3 linked regions of the Homo sapiens genome follow. The protein of the gene in region 3 purifies or fractionates together with the protein of the main gene of each other region. This does not show direct contact. Each region holds a gene or a part of one and is shown on either strand. Other genes may lie near its edges.

Evidence for each region.
Region 1: the proteins of VWA2 (region 3) and DYNLT2B purify together in Homo sapiens (affinity purification with mass spectrometry; 2 studies listed by BioGRID and IntAct, with this or other methods). This does not show direct contact.
Region 2: the proteins of VWA2 (region 3) and WDR47 purify together in Homo sapiens (affinity purification with mass spectrometry; 2 studies listed by BioGRID and IntAct, with this or other methods). This does not show direct contact.

The regions. Positions count from the first base shown.
Region 1 is NC_000003.12:196,315,159-196,322,291, forward strand, and holds the start of DYNLT2B (dynein light chain Tctex-type protein 2B), read right to left. Parts: upstream 3,083-7,133; 5' UTR 2,995-3,082; coding exon 2,882-2,994; intron 2,434-2,881; exon of another isoform or gene 1,816-2,433; intron 1,685-1,815; exon of another isoform or gene 1,284-1,684; intron 1,074-1,283; coding exon 940-1,073; exon of another isoform or gene 927-939; intron 1-926. UniProt on the Homo sapiens protein: Acts as one of several non-catalytic accessory components of the cytoplasmic dynein 2 complex (dynein-2 complex), a motor protein complex that drives the movement of cargos along microtubules within cilia and flagella in concert with the intraflagellar transport (IFT) system.
Region 2 is NC_000001.11:109,039,101-109,046,754, forward strand, and holds the start of WDR47 (WD repeat-containing protein 47), read right to left. Parts: upstream 3,003-7,654; 5' UTR 2,762-3,002; exon of another isoform or gene 2,420-2,761; intron 1,873-2,419; exon of another isoform or gene 1,850-1,872; intron 1,826-1,849; exon of another isoform or gene 1,768-1,825; intron 1-1,767.
Region 3 is NC_000010.11:114,284,169-114,291,273, reverse strand, and holds part of VWA2 (von Willebrand factor A domain-containing protein 2 precursor), read right to left. Parts: intron 6,412-7,105; coding exon 6,304-6,411; coding exon of another isoform or gene 6,300-6,303; intron 5,336-6,299; coding exon 4,763-5,335; intron 2,337-4,762; coding exon 1,785-2,336; coding exon of another isoform or gene 1,729-1,784; exon of another isoform or gene 1,041-1,728; intron 1,035-1,040; coding exon 909-1,034; intron 57-908; coding exon 37-56; 3' UTR 1-36.

The sequences.
Region 1 (7,133 bases), on a different chromosome or scaffold from region 3:
ATAATTAGAGAAGACAAGACACTGAAGAAAAAGTTGTCTTTAATAGAATCCACAGCTAACATTCTATTTACGTTTTTTTAATAGAGATGTTTTATTTTTTTATTTTGCTTTTTTTTTTTTTTGAGACAGAGTCTCACTCTGTCACCCAGGCTGGAGTGCAGTGACGCGATCTCAGCTCACTGCAACCTCCACCTCCTGGGTTCAAGTGATTCTCCTGCCTCAGCCTCCCAAGCAGCTGGGACTGCAGGCGTGTGCCACCACACCCAGCTATTTTTTGTATTTTTAGTAGAGACAGGGTTTCATCGTGTTAGCCAGGATGGTCTCAATCTCCTGACCTCGTGATCCACCCGCCTCAGCCTCCCAAAGTGCTGCGATTACAGGCGTGAGCCACTGCGCCCGGCCTTTATTTTGCTTTTTAATACACATGAGGTCGGCTGGGCGCGGTGGCTCATGTCTGTAATCCCAGCACCTTGAGAGGCCGAGGCGGGTGGATTACCTGAGGTCAGGAGTTTGAGACCAGCCTGACCAACATGGAGAAACCCCGTCTCTACTAAAAATACAAAATTAGCCAGGCGTGATGGTGCATGCCTGTAATCCCAACTACTCAGGAGGCTGAGGCAGAAGAATCACTTGAACCCGGGAGGCGGAGTTTGCAGTGAGCCAAGATCATGCCATTGCACTCCAGCCTGGGCAACAAGAGTGAAACTCCATCTCAAAAAAAAGAAAAATAGACATGAGGCCTCACCATGTTGCCTAGGCTGGTACTGAACTCCAGAGCTCAAGCAATCTTCCTGCCTTGGCATGCTAAAGTGTTGGGATTGTAGGCGTGAGCCACCACACCTGGCCCCAATGTCCTTTGTTTAAAGATGGAGAGGGGGCAAATGGGTAATACTGACTCTGTGAAGAGAATGAGTCATTTCCAGTTATCACCATGATTACCTTTTAATTTATCTTTAATGTTTTCTGATAAATGTTTTGTAAGCTGAGGCATTTCTTCTGGAGAATATTCAGCATTTGCCAGTTCCTCCTTGAGCACAGCATGGATACAGTCTTTAACCACAGAGGGCCTGAACCTGAATGGAACAATTTGTGAACATCCAGTCGGTGACTCCACAACCCCAGCTTACCTTCATACCGCAACTTCTCCCATCTTTTTGTCATTAGTACCACTTAATCCTTCTTTTTCATATTTTTTATTATAAAATATAAACAAATTAAGACAAATCATAGGCCACATGTGTATCTTCAACCTGGACCTGCACTGAACTTCAACACATTCCAACTCATGCTCCATATGAATGTTTATTAGGCAACTCAATACATCCAATAATGAGCTTCTCATACTCCCCTCTCCCCCAAAACAAAATATATACTTGTTGTTAATTTTGTTCTGCACGCTTTCACAAAATAAAATAAAATAAAATAAAATAAAAAAATACGGCTGAATGGCATTCTGGGCATTCAGAACCTTTTACCAAGATAACTGAGGGTATCTTTCTCTGTGTTCATTCTACCCAAGGGAAAAATCCTGTATGAAATTTGTATCACTTTTTCTGTGAGTTACCAAGAGAATAAAAATAAACAAAGAAATTTGTATCACATTATAATCAAAATTCCTGTTTTCCATATTTGCCAAGCAAATATGGGGTGTGTGTGTGTGTGTAAAGTTAGTGATCTTACAAACCTAGCTGAGTACCCTCTGCTCTGGCCCGTGAGCCTGACATTTTTTTCAGTGTGTGTGTGTGTGTGTTGTGTGGTGTGTGTGTGTGTTGTGTGGTGTGTGTGTGTGTGTGTAAAGTTAGTGATCTCACAAACCTAGCTGAGTACCCTCTGCTCTGGCCCGTGAGCCTGACATTTTTTTCAGTGTGTGTGTGTGTGTGTGTGTGTTGTGTGGTGTGTGTGTGGTGTGTGTGTGTGTGTGTGTGTGTGTAAAGTTAGTGATCTTACAAACCTGAGTACCCTCTGCTCTGGCCCGTGAGCCTGACATTTTTTTTCAGTGTGTGTGTGTGTGTGTGTGTGTGTGTTGTGTGTGTGTGTGTAAAGTTAGTGATCTTACAAACCTAGCTGAGTACCCTCTGCTCTGGCCCGTGAGCCTGACATTTTTTTTCAGTGTGTGTGTGTGTTGTGTGTGTGTGTGTGTGTAAAGTTAGTGATCTTACAAACCTAGCTGAGTACCCTCTGCTCTGGCCCGTGAGCCTGATATTTTTTTCAGTGTGTGTGTGTGTGTGTGTGTGTGTGTGTGTAAAGTTAGTGATCTCACAAACCTAGCTGAGTACCCTCTGCTCTGGCCCGTGAGCCTGATATTTTTTTCAGTGTGTGTGTGTGTGTGTGTGTGTGTGTGTAAAGTTAGTGATCTCACAAACCTAGCTGAGTACCCTCTGCTCTGGCCCGTGAGCCTTAATCCTAGCGAGGGCTCGCTGCGGTGGTCTAAGGGCCTCCAGATCCCACCCGGGTAGGACTTCGCACAGATGCAGCTCCCGCGCCGGGAGTGAGCCCATCCTGGCACCCGTGTGCACAGTCACCCTCGAATCACGGCTGAACGGCATCCGACGCGAGTGGCTTCCTGCCTCTATTCTACCCATCTCCTTACTCAGGACGCCATCGCGGGTTTCCCAGGGCCAACCATTCCCGCCGCGCCACCCTAAGACGCGCCCGGCGCCCAAACACTGAGGAAGCGGGTGGGGTCCCCTGCGGCCCCTGCAGCGGGAGGGGCGCCCGGACGTCACAGCAGGGCCGCCCGCCCGCCTCGCGGCCTCCCGCCTCCCGCCCCGCGGACCCCGCGCGTCCCCCGCGCTCCTTCCGTGGCCCAGGTCCCAGGCGAGCTCCGCCCCTCAGACCAGCGCGCTCGAGGTCGCCCCGCCACAGCCCGTCCTCTACCCGCCTCTGCTGGAAAACAGGCCGCAGAATATAGGTGTTCTCGGGCTCCCCTGCGTTCTTCTCAGCCTCAGGCACCCCGTCGCCCACCGAGAAGGACACTCCGATGGACGTGGCCATGCCGGGGCTTCTCGGTCCGGGCGTAGCTCGCGATGAAGGCCTAGCGGGTTGCGGTCGCGGCCGGCAGCAGGGAAAGCGTCTCCAGGGCAACAGGGCCGCCCTCCCGCCTCGCTGAAGCCCGCGAGCGCCCCGCACAGCCGCCCTCCCTGCCCGCGCCTGCGCACCGGCTGCTGGGCGGGAACTGGTCGCGTCCGGACGCGCGACAGCTTCCACCCGCCTCAGGCAGTATCAGCCGCGCCGCAGTCGGAGGAAATAGACGCGGGGCCTGAGGCTCCTGGACTTGAGGTATTAGGCTGGTGCAGAAGTAATTGCGGCGGCCGGGTGCGGGGGCTCAGGCCTGCAATCCCAGCACTTTGGGAGGCCGAGGCGGGCGGATCACCTGAGTCAGGAAGAGTTCAAGACCATCCTGGCCGACATGGTGAAACCCCATCTCTACTGAAAATACAAAAATTAGCCGGGCGTGGTGGCGCGTGCCTGTAACCCCAGCTGCTCTGGAGGCTGAGGCAGAATAATCTATTGAACCCAGGAGGCCGAGGTTGCAGTGAGCCGAGATCGCGCCACTGCACTCCAGCCTGGCGACAGAGCGAGACTGCGTCTCAAAAAAAGAAAAAAAAAAAAAAAGGAAGGAAGGAAAGAGACTTAGGCTGCATTCCCCGCTTTTAAAAATATATATTTATTTTTATTTTTTTAAACGAAGTCTCGCTCTGTCACTCAGGCTGGAGTGCAGAGGCGCGATCTCGGCTCACTGCAACCTCCACCTCCCAGGTTCAAGCAATTCTGCCTCAGCCTCCCAAGCAGCAGGGATTACAGGCGCGCCCCACCACGACCGGCTAATTTTTTTTGTATTTTTATTAGAGACGGGGTTTCACCATATTGGCCAGGCTGGTCTCCAACTCCTGACCTCAGGTGATCGCCCACCTCGGTCTCCCGAAGTGCTGGGATGACAGGCGTGAGCCATCGTACTCTGCCGCATTCCCTGCTTATAAGCACCAGTCCCTGGTCCTGTTTTAGAAGGCTGTTGTATCTTGGCCTCTGCTAGCTTCAAAAACTAAGGCCCGATGAGGTAGCTCGTGCCTGTAATCCCTGTTTACAGGAGAGGCTGAAAGGGCAGGGATTCCTTTTTTTTTTTTTCCCACTTGAGACAGGGTCTTGCTCTGTTTCTCAGGCTGGAGTGCAGTGGCACACTCACCGCTCACTTCAGCCTCGACCTCTTGGACTCAAGCAGTCCTCCCACCTCAGCCTCTGGAGTACCTGGAACTACAGGCGAATGCCACCGCGCGTGGCTAATCTTTTTAATTTTTGTAGAGATAGGATCTGGCTATGCTGCCCAGGCTACTATTGAACTCTTGGGCTCAAGTGATTATCCCACCTCAGCCTTCCGAAGTGCTGGGACTACAGGCATGAGCCATCACAGCCAGCTGGGATATTGTTTTTCGAATCGCTGTCATGTTCTGTACTATATGCAGTTCCTGAAAGAATGGAGGCAAGAAGGAGTCAGCTAACCACTGTGAACTGTCTTAGTGCCAAGGACCCACCCTTCTCTCCTTGGGGTCCTGCTGACCCATCAGAATAGGGCTGAGCCAGGATGGGGCTTGTGGAGATGATGTGTATGAGTGTGCATGCACTTGTGTGTGCATGCCTAACATCCAAAACTAGATATAAATTCTTTAAACTTTTCATTAGTTGGCCAGGCACGGTGACTCGCACCTGTGATCCCAGCACTTTGGGAGGCCGAGGCGGGCGGATCATGAGGTTAGGAGATCAAGACCATCCTGGCTAACATTGTGAAACCCGGTCTCTACTAAAAATACAAAAATTAGCTGGGTGTGGTGGCATGTGCCTGTAATCCCAGCTACTTGGGAGGCTGAGGCAGGAGAATTGCTTGAACCAGGGAGTCGGAGCTTGCAGTGAGCCGAGATCACACCACTGCACTCCAGCATGAGACTCTGTATCAAAAAAAAAAAAAAAAAAAAAAATTCTGCGTGAGTTGTGTGGAGGTGTCAGTACCTTTCCCCAGCAAGAGAAGCTTCTCCATATCAGGCATATCCTAGCCATGACCCTGAAACTAACCAGCCAAGAGGGAAATGTGAGACAAGCCCAGGCAAGCTTCCTGGATGTTGTATGCAGGAATAGGATGTGCTCTCTGGACTTGGAGACTTCCTGCCTGCTCAAGAGGCTGTGCCTCCTTGTGTCTCCCACAGGCCTCTGTGTCCACCTTCCCCACCCTGGCAGGCCTGCTAGGCCAGCAGCCCTGGAGAGGAAAGGGTGAGGTGGTGTTTGAAGGGACCTGCCTCCTACGAGCTCTGCTGGTTGGACTGTCGGATGACAGAACCGTGCCTCTGAGCCTGGGAGAGGGAGGCACCCCTGTGTTCTGGAAGCCCCCAGTGCTTCAGCAACTCCTCACTGAGGCAGAATAGTGGAGGAATCAAGCTGGGATCCAGGGGACTGAGGAGGGGATAGAGCAGCACCTGGGCCCCACATTCCCTTCCAACAGAGCCTGGGGTGCTGTGTTTCCGGGAGGGTTTTTTTTGTTTTTTGTTTTCCCGAGACAGAATCTCGCTCTGACCCCCAGCCTGGAGTGCAGTGGCATGATCTCGGCTCACTGCAACCTCCGCCTCTCGGGTTCAAGCAATTCTCCTGCCTCAGCCTCCCGAGTAGCTGGGATTACAGGTGCACACCACCACACCTGGCTAATTTTTGTATTTTTTATAGAGACGGGGTTTCACCATGTTGGCTAGGCTGGTCGTGAACTTCTGACCTCATGATCTGCCTGCCTCAGACTCCTAAAGTGCTGGGATTACAGGTGTGAGCCACTGCACCCGGCCTCTTTTTTTTTTTTTTTTTTTTTTTTTGTGAGACAGAGTCTCTGTCCCCCAGGCTGGAGTTCAGTGGTGCAATCTCGGCTCACTGCAACCTCTGTCTCCTGGTTTCAAGCAATTCTCCTGCTTCAGCCTCTGAATAGCTGGGATTACCGACATGCACCACCACGCCCATATAATTTTTGTATTTTTTGTAGAGCTGAAGTTTCACTATGTTGGCCAGGCTGGTCTCAAACTCCTGACTTCTGGTGATCCACCCACCGTGGCCTCCCAAAGTGCTGGGATTGCAGGTGTGAGCCACCGTGCCCGGCCAGAGCCTGGGGTTCTCAAACTCGTTTCTGGGGACCGCCCACCACTTTTCTTGCCAGTGCCCATCTTCCAGGTTCCTCCCAGGCTGCTTCTGCCTGCCTTGTCCTCTTCCTGCCTGTCACACCACACTCTCCCACCAGCATCTTCCTCATTCCGCTCTGACTCTCCTCACCACCCAGCCCGACCTGACTGAAAACCCCGCAGTGGGAGAGCAGGAGGCCCCTGCTTCTAGGTGCCGTGTGAGAAGCAGCTGTGAGGTCGGGTTGGGTGGCTCACGCCTGTAATCCCAGCACTTTGGGAGGCCGAGGTGGGCGGGTCACAAGGTCAGGAGTTCAAGACCAGCCTGGCCAATATGGTGAAAACCCATCTCTACTAAAAGTACAAAAAAAATAGCCAGGTGTGGTGGCGGGTGCCTGTAATCCCAGCCACTCAGGAGGCTGAAGCAGGAGAATCGCTTGAACTTGGGAGGCAGAGGGTGCAGTGAGCCGAGATCATGCCACTGCACTCCAGCCTGGGCAACAGAGCGAGACTCCATAAAAAAGAAAAAGAGATTTAATTGGCTCACAGTTCTGCAGGGGTTACAGGAAGCATAGCACCCACATCACTCAGCTTCTGGGGAGGCCTCAGAGAGCTTTTACTCATGGCAGCAGGTGAAGAGGGAGCAGGCGAGTCACATAGTGAGAGCAGGAGCAGGCGAGAGAGAGGCCAGAGGTGCCACACGCTTCTAAATGACCAGATCTCGCGGGAACCCACTATCACAAAGACAGCTCTGAGCCGTGAGGGATCCGCCTCATGATCCACACACCTTCTGCCAGGCCCCACCTCTAGCACTGGGGATCACAATTCAACATGAGATTTGGGTGAGGACAGATATCCAAACTGTGTGGACAGAGGTGATGCTCCTCTACTTGTTGAACTCTTGAACACTAGTGAAGAGAATGCTGGTGTATTAGTCTGCCAGGCTGCTGTTGCAGAATACCATGAACTGGGCACTTAAGCAACTGAAATAGA
Region 2 (7,654 bases), on a different chromosome or scaffold from region 3:
TTAAACAGGAGAAGTTCAGGTGGGTAATGAGTGATGAGCATTTACTATGTATTAACAACATGCTACAAACTGGGATACAATGATCGAGCTATTACAGTGAATAAGACTATAGAACACAAAAGAAAGGTTTTAAGGGAGTGTGTGGTATAAATCCTTTTTTTTTTTCTTTTTGAGGTGGAATCTCGCTTTGTCGCCCAGGCTGGAGTGCAGTGGCATGCATGATCTTGGCTCACTGCAACCTCTGCCTCCTGTGTTCAAGCAATTCTCCTACCTCAGCCTCCCAAATAGCTGGGATTACAGGCACACGCCACCATGCCCAGTTAATTTTTATATTTTTGATAAAGACAGGGTTTCACCATGTTGCCCAGGCTGGTCTCAAACTCCTGACCTCACGTGATCCGCCCGCTTTGGCCTCCCAAAGTGCTGGGATTACTGGCACAAGCCACCACGCCCAGCCGGTATAAACCCTTTTTTAAGGATATCTTTTCACTTGAACAGAAACAAACTCAACATAGAGAAAAATTAGTTGAAATATGCAAGCTTTGGCTATTCGGTGTAATAGTCTCAAAACTGAAGTATCCTCAGGTGTGGGCCAGCATTGGATTTGGAGTCTGAAGACCTGGGTTCAAGTCTTCTGTTCAAAAATAATATACAGGGTCAGGCACGGTGGCTCAAGCTTGTAATCCCAACATTGCGAGCCCAAGGCGGGTGGATCACCTGAGGCTAGGAGTTCGAGACCAGCCTAGCCAACATGGTGAAACCCCATCTCTACTAAAAATACAAAAAGTAGCCGGGCGTGGTGGCAGGCACCTGTAATCCCAGCTACTTGGGAGGCTGAGGCAGGAGAATCGCTTGAACCCAGGAGGCAGAGGCTGCAGTGAGCCGAGATCATGCCACTGAACTCCAGCCTGGATGACAGAGTGAGACTCCGTCTCAAAAAAAAAAAAAAAAAAAAAAGGTAATCAACAGATGCCTTCCAAAGTGCTTTCAACTCAAAGCCCATTCTCAGACTAAAACAATAGCAAGCATCACCATTTTACAGAATGAGAAATCAGTCAATGTTAAGCTTAGCAGCTCTTACAAGAATGCAATCAGTAGCAAAAGAAAGCTTAAATACAGGTAATCTGATTTTTCAGCTTACTGATCTACTAAGGAAAACTGCACATCTTTTCATAACTAAAGCGTTTCTGAAACTGCAGCATACATTAAGCATTTCATATGCCGCCCATTAAATAACTAATATATTCTATTTCACAAACAGGAAAAGAGGTTGAACACCATTATGTAAGTAGTAACATAGGATAGTACCCCTGTTCTCTTATGACACATTCTTAACAGTACTGGTTTTTAAGGCGAGGGAGAAAAGAACCAGGAAGTGGACCAGTGGGAGATAAACACAGGTTAAAATCCCGTCCAAAAAAAAAAAAAAATTTACATCTTCATAATGGCATCCAAATTCAAGTGTTTGGGTTTTGGCTTTTTTACCTAACAATATACTGTTGTGACTTGACTTTTCCATTACCGTGTAATAATGTTTCTTTCCTATTGGAAGCAATCTCTCCTAATCTCCCAAACCTAAAGTAGAATTATTCATTTCATCTTCTTCCTAAATGAGACCTCGACAATATGCCATATAAAGGAAAATGGGCTCTTAGGCGTTTCTCCTTCTTAGTAAAATGCCAATGCAACATATGCCAACACTGGAGACAAAAAAATTCTACTTGAATTTACTGTGAAAAAAAGATTTATAGCATTTTTTAAACCTACATGTTCATTTCTGTGCCATTAACTTTTTGAGGCATTCTACAGAGTCTCCAACAAAGAGAGAAATAAGTATTAGGATCACAACCTACGAATCTGGGTGGAACAAAGACTTCTCCTTTCATTATGCAGAGAAAACCAAGTTGCCAAAAAAAAAAAACGGTCCCCTCAGATACCATGCACGGTTACTAACTGCACGTCTGGGTACAGAGAAGGAAAAATCATCTGGTCAAAAGCCCAAATGCCGCCCCGGCCTACCCTCGCCCCCCGCCCCCGCCCCCTTTGCCCATGGCCTCGCCCCAGAGCTAGAGTTCCAATATTTTTCTCCCCAATAAAGGGAAGCGGTTTAACCCTTTGAGTTCCACAACCTTGCGTTCTTCTACGCAGGCGCCCCTCCAGCGCAATCCCAGTTCTAAATCGAGTCGCTGCCCCTTTCCGCGACCACACCCAGATCCCCAAAGGCCTGCTCCCATCCCGACCATTGATGTGAGAAAGGCCAAAACCGGCCCCAGCGGGGCTCCCAGCCCCGCCGCTCCCTCTCTTCCTCCGGGCCAAGGCGTGCCCAGAAAGGGACGCGAGCGCGCCCCTCAGTTCTCGCACGGGCTCGACCAAGGGGCGAGGAAGGAAGAATCGGCGCAGCGGCGAGATGGGCACGAACCTCGCGCTCACTTGCTGCTCAGTGCCAGGGCGAGGGGCGTCGCTCTGCCCCCAGAATCCAACTGGTAATGTGGGAAAGGTGTGGTCCAGGACCGGTGACCTCGAACCGGGGCCCAGCAGTTCGCAGATCCTCACCCCGCGATGCTGGGGCCTCACCCACGACCCCAGCCCCCTCCCAGTCGGCACCCAAGCCCACTAAAGACCCCTCTCCGGGGCCGCAAACACAGTCCTCGGGGCCGCCCGGTCGGAGCCGTGTCAGGTGGTGACAGGAGGCGACGGGTGACCATGGCAACCCGAGGTGTGCAGCGGACCGACCCAGCCTCCGACTCCCGGAGTCACCCACCTGAGGGCTCCAGGGCAAGCCCGGAGGAGCGGCGGAGGAGAACGCGGCTGGGAGGCCGGCGGCCAGGGCCCCGAAGCGGCCGGCTCCGGGCTGCGGCAGGAGCACGACGGCGGCGGTCTGGGTTTGGCGTCGGTCCTCCCTCCTACCGCCCGCGCGTCAATCCATCAGTTCGTCAATCCGTCCTTCTCACGTCCGCCCCTCCCGGCCCAGCGACTCCTCAGCTCAGCCTCTTGCAGACTGCGGTTGTCAAGTGCCGGGGAGCCGAGCTCTACCCGCGAGCGGCAGCCAATCGCCGCGCTTCCCCGAGGCGCCTCAGGACCCCGCCGCGCGGGGCGGCCAGGCAGGTGCCTGAGCCGAAGGGCGAGTCGGCGGGGCGGGGCGGGGCGGGGAGGGGCGTGGAGGGGCGGGCCCAAAGCTGGGGCGGGGAGGGGCGGGGCGGACCAAAGCCTGGGCGGGGCGGACCAAAGCCTGGGCGGGGCGGGCGGGGGTCGGGCTTGGAGGGACCGGCTAGGGGCCCGGGGGAGTAGCAGAACGGGTGCGGCAATAGCGTGAGACTGGTGGCAGGGACGTAGACCCTTAGCTGGCCGGTGACCCCATGTCCCAAAATAGCACGAACAGGATTGTCGCCTGCAAATGGAGAAGACTGCGCATTAGGATTGACTCTTCATACTCCTCCCCGATAATTAATAAAGGTTAATGAAATTAATGTTGCCTTCTACCCTTCTTTCGCTGCTTTCCTAGGTCCCACTTCGTCCCAGAAAACTCCAGTAGTTTGTTTGTCCCCTTCCTGGTTTCTCATTTTGCAAAGCTGATCTGCCTTGAAAGCATTTTTCAGTTACTTAACATTTAATATGTTCAGGTTTTGTCTACTCCTGTTGGTTGTAAGCCCCTTATTCCACAAATATACGTGATGTTCAACCGAGCTTAATTAAGCATCCAGGAAGTATAACCATAAGGAAGAATACAATTACACAAACCTGTAAGAACATCATTCTCGGCCAGGCGCGGTGGCTCACGCCTGCAATTCCAGCACTTTAGGAGGCCGAGGCGGGCGGATCACCTGAGGTCAGGAGTTTGAGACCAGCCTGGCCAACATGGTGAAACCCCGTCTCTACTAAAAATACAAAAATTAGCCGGGTGTGCTGGCAAGCCTCCTGTAATCACAGCTACTTGGTAGGCTGAGGCAGGAGAATCGCTTCAACCTGGGAGACGGAGGTTGCAGTGAGCCGAGATCATGCCACTGCACTCCGGCCTGGGTGACAGAGCGAGAGACTCCGTCTCACAGAAAAAAGAACATCATCCTCACAGAGGCGAAAGTCCAGAGTGAGCTGGACCTCCCAAAAGGGGAAAATGGGGTAACAGTCTGGTAAAGAGAATAAACATCAAAAATATTTCTGGCACTCCCATGCTTATTGCAGTACTATTCACAATAGCCAAAATATAGAATCAACCTATGTCAATCAACAGACAAATGGATAAAGAAAATGTGGTACATATACACAATGCAATCTTTTTTTTTTTTTTTTTTTTTTGAGACGGAGTCTCGCTCTGTCGCCCAGGCTGGAGTGCAGTGGCGCCATCTCGACTCACTGCAAACTCCGCCTCCCGGGTTCACGCCATTCTCCTGCCTCAGCCTCCCGCGTAGCTGGGACTACAGGCGCCCGCCACCAGGTCCGGCTAATTTTTTTTTTTTTTTTTGTATTTTTATTAGAAACGGGGTTTCACCGTGTTAGCCAGGATGGTCTTGATCTCCTGACCTCGTGATCCACCCGCCTCGGCCTCCCAAAGTGCTGGGATTACAGGCGTGAGCCACCGCGCCCGGCCACACAATACAATCTTATTCACCCATTAAGAAAGAATGAAATCCTGTCATTTGCAGCAACATGGATGGGACGGGAGGACATTATGTTAAGTGAAACAAGACAAGCACAAAAAGACAAATATTGCACGTTCTCACACATATGTGGGAACTAAAAGAATTGATCTCGTGGAGGTAGTGAATAGAATGGTGGTTACCAGAGGCTAGAAAGTGTAGTGGAGGGCAAAGGGGGGATAAAGAGGTTAATGGGTACAAAAATACAGTTATGTAGCAGGAATAAATTCTAGTGCTCAATAGCATAATTGGGTGACTATAGTTAACAATAATCTATTCTATATTTCCAAACAGCTAGAAGAGAAGATTCAGAATGTTCCCAACACAAAGAAATAGTAAATGGCAGGCCAAGCGTGGTGGCTTATGCCTGTAATCTCAGCACTTTGGGAGGCCGAGGCGGGCAGATCACGAGGTCAAGAGGTCAAGAGATCGAGACCATCCTGGCCAACATGGTGAAACCCTGTCTCTACTAAAAATACAAAAATTAGCCGAGTGTGGTGGTGTGCGCCTGTAGTCCCAGCTACTCGGGAGTCTGAGGCAGGAGAATCACTTGAACCCGGGAGGCGGAGGTTGCAGTGAGCCGAGATTGGGCCACTGCACTCCAGCCTGGTGACAGAGCGAGACCGCGTCTCAAAAAAAAAGAAAAGAAATAATAAATGGGTGGGCACAGTGGCTCATGCCTGAAATCCCAGCACTTTGGGAGGCTTAGGCCAGAGGCTCACATGAGGCCATGAGTTAGAGACTAGCCTAGGCAACATAGTGAGACTCCCTCTCTACAAAAACAAGAATAAAAAATTAGACACGGTGAGACACACCTGCAGTCCTAGCTACTTGAGAGGCTGAAGTGAGAAGATAGTTTGAGCTCAAAGTCCGAGGCTACCATGAGCTATAATCACACTACTGCACTCCAGCCTGGGTGACTGAGTAAGACCCTGTGTCTTAATAATAATAATGCATTTCTAAGGTGATGGATATCCCAATTACCCAGATTTGATCATTACACATTGTATTTACTCCAGAAATATCTACAACTATTATGTAACTATAAAAATTAAAAATAAACAAAATTTAAACCATATTTCTGGGAATACAAAATCTTGTCCAGTTCAAGATAAAAGAAGCGAGAGCTTGAAGATACACATTTCTTTTTTTTCTTTTCTTTTCTTTTTTTCCTTTTTTTTTTTTTTTTTTTGAGATGGGGTCTCACTGTGTCGCCCAGGCTGGAGTGCAGTGGTGCGATCTTGGCACTCTGAACCTCCTCCTCCTGGGTTCAAGCGACTCTCCTGCATCAGCCCCCAGAGTAGCTGGGACTACAGCATACACCACCATGCCCAGCTAGTTTTTGTATTTTTAGTAGAGACAGGGTTTCACCATGTTGGTCAGGCTGGTCTCGACCTCGTGATCCGCCTGCCTGCCTTGGCCTCCCAAAGTCCTGGGGATTACAGGCATAAGCCACTGTGCCTGGCTTTCTTTTTTTTTTGAGACGGAGTCACTCTGTCACCCAGGCTGGAGTACATGGCGCAATCTCAGCTCACTGCAACCTCTGCCTCCTGGGTTCAAGCAATTCTGCCTCAGCCCCCTGAGTAGCTGAGATTACAGGCAGGTGCCACCACACTCAGCTAATTTGTGTGCCACCACACTCGGCTAATTTTTGTATTTTTAGTAGAGACGAAGTTTCACCATGTTGGCCAGGCTGGTCTCAAACCCCTGACCTCAAGTGATCCTCCCGCCATGGCCTCCCAAAGTGCTGGGATTACAGGCATGAGCTACTGCACCCAGCCGAGGAAACATTTCTAAGAAAAATACTTATGCATTCAGAGAAAACAACACACAAAAGCTGAACTACAAAATTTCAATTGCCTAGTCAGTAACTCCTGGAAGAAAGTCTTCATTATGAACCCTCTTAATGATAAGTGACAGGCAAATAAATATAAACATAATTGAATGTTACCCAGGATCTTGATATTGAAAACAAAACAAGCAAACAAACAACACATTACAGAGTGTTTAAATTGAAAAAGTAGGCAGATACGTTTTTCCTGAAAGTAGTATCTCAATTATTTTGCTAGTATAGTTCATCTAAGAAACCACTTCTAAATCTTTATGATCAAACAAGAAGTTTTGAGAACCAGTATCCTTTTTTTTTTAACTTCATTTTTTATCCCATTTCCCACATTTTTATCAGTTAGAACCTTTTCCCCATGGACCCATATTCTGAAACTTTAGGAATTAATTACATTTTCTTTCTTTTTTTTTTTTTTTGTTTTTTGAGACAGTATTGCTCTGTCGCCCAGGCTGGAGTGCAGTGGGGCGATCTCAGCTCACTGCAACCTCTGCCTCCCGGGTTCAAGCAATTCTCCTTTCTCAGCCTCCCGAATAGATGGGATTACAGGCCCATGCCACCACACCCAACTAATTTTTGTATTTTTAGTAGAGAATGGGTATAACCATGTTGGCCAGGTTGGTCTCGAACTCCTGACCTCAAGTGATCCATCCACCTCAGTCTCCCAAAGTGCTGGGATTACAGATGTGAGCCACCGTGCCCAGCTAGGAATTAATTACATTTATTAACAAATCGTTAATAATTAATTATTGGGTCAGAATCATAGAATTCTAGAGGGTTTTTGTTTGTTTGTTTGTTTGTTTTTTGTGACAGTGTCTCACTCTGTCGCCCAGGCTGGAGTGTAGTAGGGCAGTCATGGCTCTCTGCAGCCTAGAACTCCTGGGCTCAAGCGATCCTTCCACCTCCGCTTCCCCAGCCCAGTAGCTGAGACTACAGGTGCAAGCCACCATGCCTGGCTAATTTTTTTTTTTTTTTTTTTTAAGTAGAGACAGGGTTTTGCCTTGTTGCCCAGGCTGGTGCTAAAATGATCCTTTCCCCTTGGCCTCCCGAAGAGCTAGGATTACAGGCATGAACCATCGTGCCCAGCCCAGCATCCTTTAAATATTTAAATCTTCTACTAGCTCTAGAAAGAGTAACTAATCAGGGACAATCTGACAAACAACCGATCACCTGCTAG
Region 3 (7,105 bases):
TACGGCTGCTGCCCTCCTGCACGGGAGCCATGTGCCTCAGGGGCGTCTCAAGAATCCTGGGGAAGGAAGTGAAGTCTGAGGACAGGAGTGTCTGCATCCCCTTCTCAGCCCTCCAGCAGCCTCTGAGGACCCCTTCAGGTCCTGCTCTTACTCTACAACCCACCTCGCCCCCAGCAGAAGATGCCAGATTAGAGACCCCATGTGATTATCCTCCAGAGCTTCTCTCTGGCCTTAGGAAGCCAACCTCTGCCCGTGGCCAAAAAACCAAGGCTCCGACTGGACTTGTCTTCTGATTTCTGGCTGTTCTAACTTCAAACTCATGAACAGGAGCCATAGTTGGACCTCTAATGCCTCCCAACGATCACTCTCTAGGTCCTAATCTGTTACCCTTGACAATGACTTCTTTTCTCTCAAACCTCTAGCACCTCCTCCTCGTCCTCACTTAGCTGTTCCTCCCATTTTACTGAGCAAATAGCACCCCAAAAAGAGCTTCCAGCAGCTCCCACCACCGCATTTACCCATCCCTGCCTCCGTCTACATCCCTGTACCCTGGATCTACTGTGCTCCTAACTGTGGCCTCCCTCCTAGTTGTCATGACTTTCTCCGGGGTGCTTAGCACCGTCTACCACACCACATGTTGTATTATTTGCTTATTGTCTGTCTTCCCATTAGAATGGAAGCTCCATGAGGGCAGAGGTTTTATTCATTTGTTTACTGCTATGTTCCTGCACTGAGAACAATGCCTGGGATGCAGGAGGTACTCACTAAATGTTTCGTGGGTAAACGACTGAATAATTTCTTCCACTGAACGAATGTTTTAGAACCTGCCTTCAGCTGAGTTTGTGGGACTTGGCAGGACTCGCAATACCATCCCTGGCTCACACATACAGAGCAAGAGCTCCACTCACGGTTCTCGCAGTGGGGGCCCTCCCAGCCATCCCGACACTTGCAGCGGTAGCTCCCATTCTGCAGGACGCAGCTGCCCTCATTCATGCACGGGCTGGGTTTGCAGAGGTTGACTGGCTGCTTGGCTTCTACAATGGAGAACACCATACCCACCAGGCCGGCCAGGCATGGGTTAGACCCGAAGACCCCTACCCTAAGTAAGCCCAGTAGAGGTGCAAGGCTACTAGAGTCATGTCTCCCTTTGCCCCGGTAGCTCATGGTTGGTGCTGCATACCACTTGGCTAGGTTAGTAAGACCCAGCTCTCCTACAGACTCATGGAGAGTCCATTGCTCAGACGTGCCATACACATGGCAGACTTTTTTTTTTTTTTTTTTGAGGCAGAATCTTGCTCTTGTTGCCCAGGCTGGAGTACAATGGCGCGATCTTGGCTCACCACAACCTCCACCTCCCGGGTTCAAGTGATTCTCCTGTCTCTTTTAAGAAGGTGAAGAGGAGGTCACTGGATTTGGGCTGGCCTGGCCCTGTTTGCTCTGGGCTCTGTCACTGCCCAAGTCAGTGTGAATGTGGGATCTTTAGACCCTTAGGAAGCTTGTGGATATTCTAAAAGTGTGTTCTGTTTAAAGGGAATGCATAAATTCTCAAGTTTGGGGGGAGTTATCTATGTTAGTTAAACTTTCTGTACCTTAAATGTCAAATAGGATGGTTATGCCTACTGTAGGATTTTATGTGAGCATGGGGTTTAGCACAGAACCTGGCACTTGGGAAGCAAGTGCTCAGTAGCTGGGAAGAGCTGCCATCCTCGTCATGATGTATGTGAAGGCTCAGGCTGAGGGCCTGCCATGGGGGCAGCCCTGAGGGTGTGGATTCCCCCACTCACCTCCACACAGCCACTCAATGAGCACGTCCTGGTGGTACCGCAGGTCGGCGTAAGCTGCCACGTGGATCAGGGAATCCCGGGGACCTGCAAGCCTCCGCAGACCCTCACTTAGGACAGGCCCCACGCCCACGACCAAGACAGAGATGCCATTGTTCCTCAGCTTCTGGGCAGGAACGGCTGCATCCTCTGCGCCTCTCCCGCCTGTGAGCACCACCACAGCTTTGGGGACACCAGGCCGGGCACCCCTCTGGACGGTCATCACTTTGTCATAGATGTGCAGCAGGGCGGTGCCGGCTGAGCCCACCCCACCTAGGTAGGGGGCCTGGCTAATGGCCCGCAGCATCGCAGCCCGGGTGGGTTTGGTGTCCAGCCCGAAGGCAGTCTGCACCTGGCTGCCATACACCACCAGGCCGACCTGTGTCACGTCAGGGTTCACCTCAAACTGGAGGGCACAGCTTCTCACAAAGCTCTGCATCTGAGCAAAATTCTCGGGCCCTACTGAGGCAGAGGTGTCCAACATGAAGACGAGGTCCAGGGCTTGTGTCCGGCACCCTGCAGGAGCAAGCAGAGGGGCTTCAGCAGTGGATGTGCCAGTCAGAGCCCCTCGACGGGACCCAGGGACTGCCAGGTTGGGTAGGACCAAGGTCAGCCAGGGTGCTCTGTTCACTGCAGAATACACCCTCTATGTCTTCCTTTTAGCCACAGAACAGCACTTTCCTAGAATATTAGCAGGAAGATGAGTGCCTGCCAGACCACATTTCCCAGACTTCCTGGCAGCTAGGGTGGCCACGTGTCTAAGTTCTATCTGACGGACGTGATCAATTTCAAACTCATGCAGCTGGAAGCTGCTTACCTTCCACTTCCCCTCTCCCCCTTCCTGCTGGCTGAGAAATGGTGACCTTGGACCTCAAGGTGGAAGCCATAAGATGACCAAGCCCTGCTGGCCCGGGCCACTCACCTCTGAACTGTATGTGAGAGAAATAAGTTCCTGTCTTATGTAACCCATGGGGTTTGGGTTTGTGGGCAACCCTTTGTGACAACATCTTCACCTGTGCCTTCATCCATCCCCAGTATGCAGGGCACTAATTAGATGCTGTATGGACAAAATGGGCCCATGCCTGCTGTCAACAGGCTGACAGTCTAGGGGAACAGACATGAAATGAACATAGAATTACAAATGATGTCGGCAGCGTGGAGGGAAAAGCAGGGGACTTCGAGAGAGACCAGTAGGGGAACATAACAAGACTGGGAGAAGGGGTCAGAGCTTCTCTGGGGAGGTGACATTTCACCTAAGAACTGAAAGACAAGTAAGTATGAGCCAGAAGGCCTCTCCTGTGCAGGGGATGCAGAGAGGCCTGTGGGGACCAGGCCACAGGGAGCTCTCAGAAGCCAGGGGAAGGAGTTTGGGTTTTATTCCAAGTGCAAAGGGGAACCACTGGAAATTCTAAGTATGGAGTTAGAGGAGCTGATGCTCTGATTACTGGTTTTTAAAACCACTCCCACACCAGGAACGTCTGAGAAACTATCACAGCTACGGGGAAGGCGGCTGACTACATGTACTGTGGGGTCCTGGATGGGATTCTGGAACACAAAAAAGACATTAGGTAAAAACTAAACAAATATAAATAAGCATGGATTCACTAAATAATGATGTATCAATACTGGTTCATTAATGATAACACTGTGCCATACTAATGCAAGGTGTTAATAGGAGGGGAAACTGGGTGTGGGGTATAGGGAACTCTCCACTATTGTCAATTATTTTTTCCTATAAATCTACAACTATTATTTTTTTTAAAAAATCCAACCAAACAAAGCAGCAGAACAAAAGCACTTAGACCAGCCTGGAGGGGCAGGGTGGGAGTGGGCAGCCAATCCCTGTCCTTCCGCCTTACAGGAGGGAAAGCCTCTCGCCTTGGGGAGAGTGGTGGCATCAGGGCTGAGAAGCAGAATCACATCTGTAGCTTCCCATGCCCACCTACCAAGGGGAGAACTCCAGGAGCCCTATAAAGGCTTACATTTCACTCAAGCCTGTAATCCCTCCACTTTGGGAGGCTGAGGTGGGTGGATTGCTTGAGCCCAGGAGTTCGAGACCAGCCTGGGCAACATAGCAAGACCACATCTCTCTAAAAAATAAAACAATTAGCTGGGCATGGTGGTGTGCACCTGTAGTCCTGGCTATTCTGGAGGCTGAGGTGGAAGGATCACGTGAGCCCAGGAGTTCAAGGCTGCAGTGAGCTATGATCGTGCCACTGCATTCCAGCCTGGGTAACAGAGCAAGACCCTGTCTCAAAAGAAAAAAAAGACGTGTTTCAGCTACTACATCTCTGGCCATGGGCCAGGCCTCTGCGTGGGGACAGTGTTCTCTAGAGTGCCTTCCAATAGGGGTCATAAAAAATCAGCTTCATGGCTTGCAAAACAGAACAGAAGAGAAAAATGTCAGAATGCATCCCAAGTAGACAGGGTAAGTATCCTCTCAGGAAGCGTTTGTTTCAGTTGTGTGTGGCTGCACCAGCGCGTGTGCATGCACATGCATCCGTGTGTGTATGTGTGCATACATGTGCATGTGTGCACCAGGAACACACTTTTCTGTGGATTGCCATCAAAGGAGCTGGGAAGCTGCTGCTCTGGAGCCTGCTTAGTAGATTCAGAGCTCTTAGTAACAACAACAATAAAATCGTGATTAAGAATGATAACAGCAACACCTAGAGTTTGCTGAGTGCTTACTCTGTACTAAGCATGTACACTGCCCATCTTACCTAATTCTCACTAAAGATCTCTCAGGAGGTACTACTATTAGTCCCATTTTGTTGACAGGTAAACTGAAAATTATTTATGTGACTGGTGCCTGAAAGAGTGGGGCTGTGGTTTCAGCCCCTAGAAGAGGCACTGGCAGAAAATGATGGTTAGGTGGTGGCCAAAAGGAGGAAGGACCCGCCCACTGACCAGCGGTCCTGGGTCAGGCACTGGGACCTTACCTGGCCGCTGCCGGCTGCACAGCTTCCCCTGCAGCTCAGGGATTTGGTTGAACAGATCCTGAGGATCCGAGTAGACCATCACATGCTTTGGGCTGCCTGTGATCTCCTCCAGCTCTGCCCGCACGGCCTCACTGCCTACACCCAGCAGGAGCAGCTCTCGCGCCCTTGCGTGACGCGCTGGGCCCGCAACCTCATCCTCGGAGTGTGACTCAGTGAGCAAAACCACCACTCTACGTGGCCGGTCCTGGCCTGTCCTGGTGGCGCTCCCGAAGCCACGCTCTGCCGCCTGCCGCAAGGCACTGCCCGTCAGGGTGGGGCCACCACGGAAGGGAATGCCATCGAGGCTCCAGACCAGGTCAGGCACATCCTGGTACTCCCCCACAGGCACCGCCACCAGCAGCTCCCTGCTGTATGTGGCCACACCCACTCGGGCCCGAGAGTCCTCGCTCAGCACGGCCCGCACAAACCGCTTCACGAAGACTTTGGCCCGCAGGAAGCCGTCCAGAGTGGTGCCCGCAGAGCTGTCCAGCAGGAAGAGGAGGTCGACCCTGCATTCCAGGCTCAGCTTCAGGGCTGCGGGGATCACAGCAACACCCACTGTCAAGCCATGGTCATGCGGCATGCGAGCTGTCCCACCCGAGATGCCGAACATCTCCCAGGAGGGAGATGGTGCAGAGAAACTGTGGGCCCCCCAAGCTTAAGTGACCCGTGCTCGTCACAGAGTTAGAGACAAGGCCAGACATGGCACTCCTGGCACTCGCTAAGGGTCTCCATCTAGCCACTTTTTAAAGAAAAATGCCATCTACATTATCACTTTTTTCCATTATGGTTAGTCCTGTGTGTGTCCTGAGAAATCTTTGTCTGCCTCAAGATCATGAAAATATATGCTCCTGTGTTTGCTTCTACAGGCTTCACTGCTTTGCCTTTTGCACAGAGGTCTATAGCCACGCTAGAATTGACTTCTGGTAGGGTTGTGAGGTACAGGGTCAAGATTGTTTTCATACAGATCTTCAACTAACCCAGTATCACTTGTTTTTAAAAGTTATTATTCATCAAGCCCTTATATGCGTCAAGCATGGTACTAAGCACTTTGCATAATCTTATTTAAAACTCTCAACCACCCAGTGAGGTAAAGCCTACTATCATCTTCATTTCACACCTCTAAAATCAAAAGGAATCGGGGCTCCTTGCTCTGCTTTCATAGAATAGAGAAGAAAAGACTCTGCCCAGGACTGGGAGCCAGAGTTGGGTGGACTCCTGCCTTCAGCTGGGCTGGGCAGCACTCAAACTTCAAGCAGTGACCATTCTGCAGCTAATAAGCTGGGAGCCACTGTCTCATCCAGAGCTCAGCCACCCCAATTATCTACTCACGGAGCACTGACAGGCTGCACCACGTGAACTGCAGACCAGTGGTGCATTGGAAAGCAGATGGTTCAAGGGCCAGTTTCTACCCAGCAGCTGGAAGGGCGTGCAATGAAAAGGGGAGCCCGTCCTCTTCTTGCTCCCCAGTGGTCAGTCTTGCAGGGCCGGTGCATACCTACCACAGTTAGCCTCCCCTCCAAAGGCCAGCGGGCAGAGGCACTGGTAGCCGTCCAGTCCTTCTGGAACACATGTGCCTCCATTCTGGCAGGGCTGCGAGTCACAGGGGCCTATCAGAGAGATGCCCATTAACCGCTAAGCACCGCAGCACAGAGGAGTGGAGAGGACTGGCCAGAGGTGTGGGTGCAGCTGGCTTCCTGCTCTAGCAGTGGCCCAGCCCCTCCCTTCCCCCACAGTCCACCAGGAAATCTGCAGCAGAGAGGGGAAAGCACTGTGGAGTTCATAAAGGAGGGGCTGGGCACGGGTGGTAAAGGATGCTCTGTAGCAGGCTTGGTAAGGCCCTGTGTGATGAACTGGTGTTAGACTGAAGCTTGACAAGGAGGAAGCTCCCCGTAGCATCAAGTGTGGGTGCCTCAAGACTGAGAGAGAGCTGCGGTGCCAATGGGGCCCTGTCTTCTAAGTTCTACACAGGGTTGTCTTAATGGCCTCTGCACCTGGCACAGCAAAACACACCAGCCTTCGGATCCTGCAGTCAGGCTGCTCAGGACTGAATGTGGCCTCTTCCACTTCCTCCGGCACCTTAATTAACCTCTCCCATCTTCATATCCTCATCTAAAAAGGAGTGATGGGAACTGAACTTGTTCTGTGGGGTTATTGTGAGGATTAAATGAATTAATCCGCAGAAAGTCTCAGCACTAAAAAAACACTCCCCAACAGGTAATGACAGTATTGACTTTTGGATGTGAGATGCAAATTATGAGCAAGGCCTCTTCAAAGCTGAAAGTTTACATGGGAAACCACAGC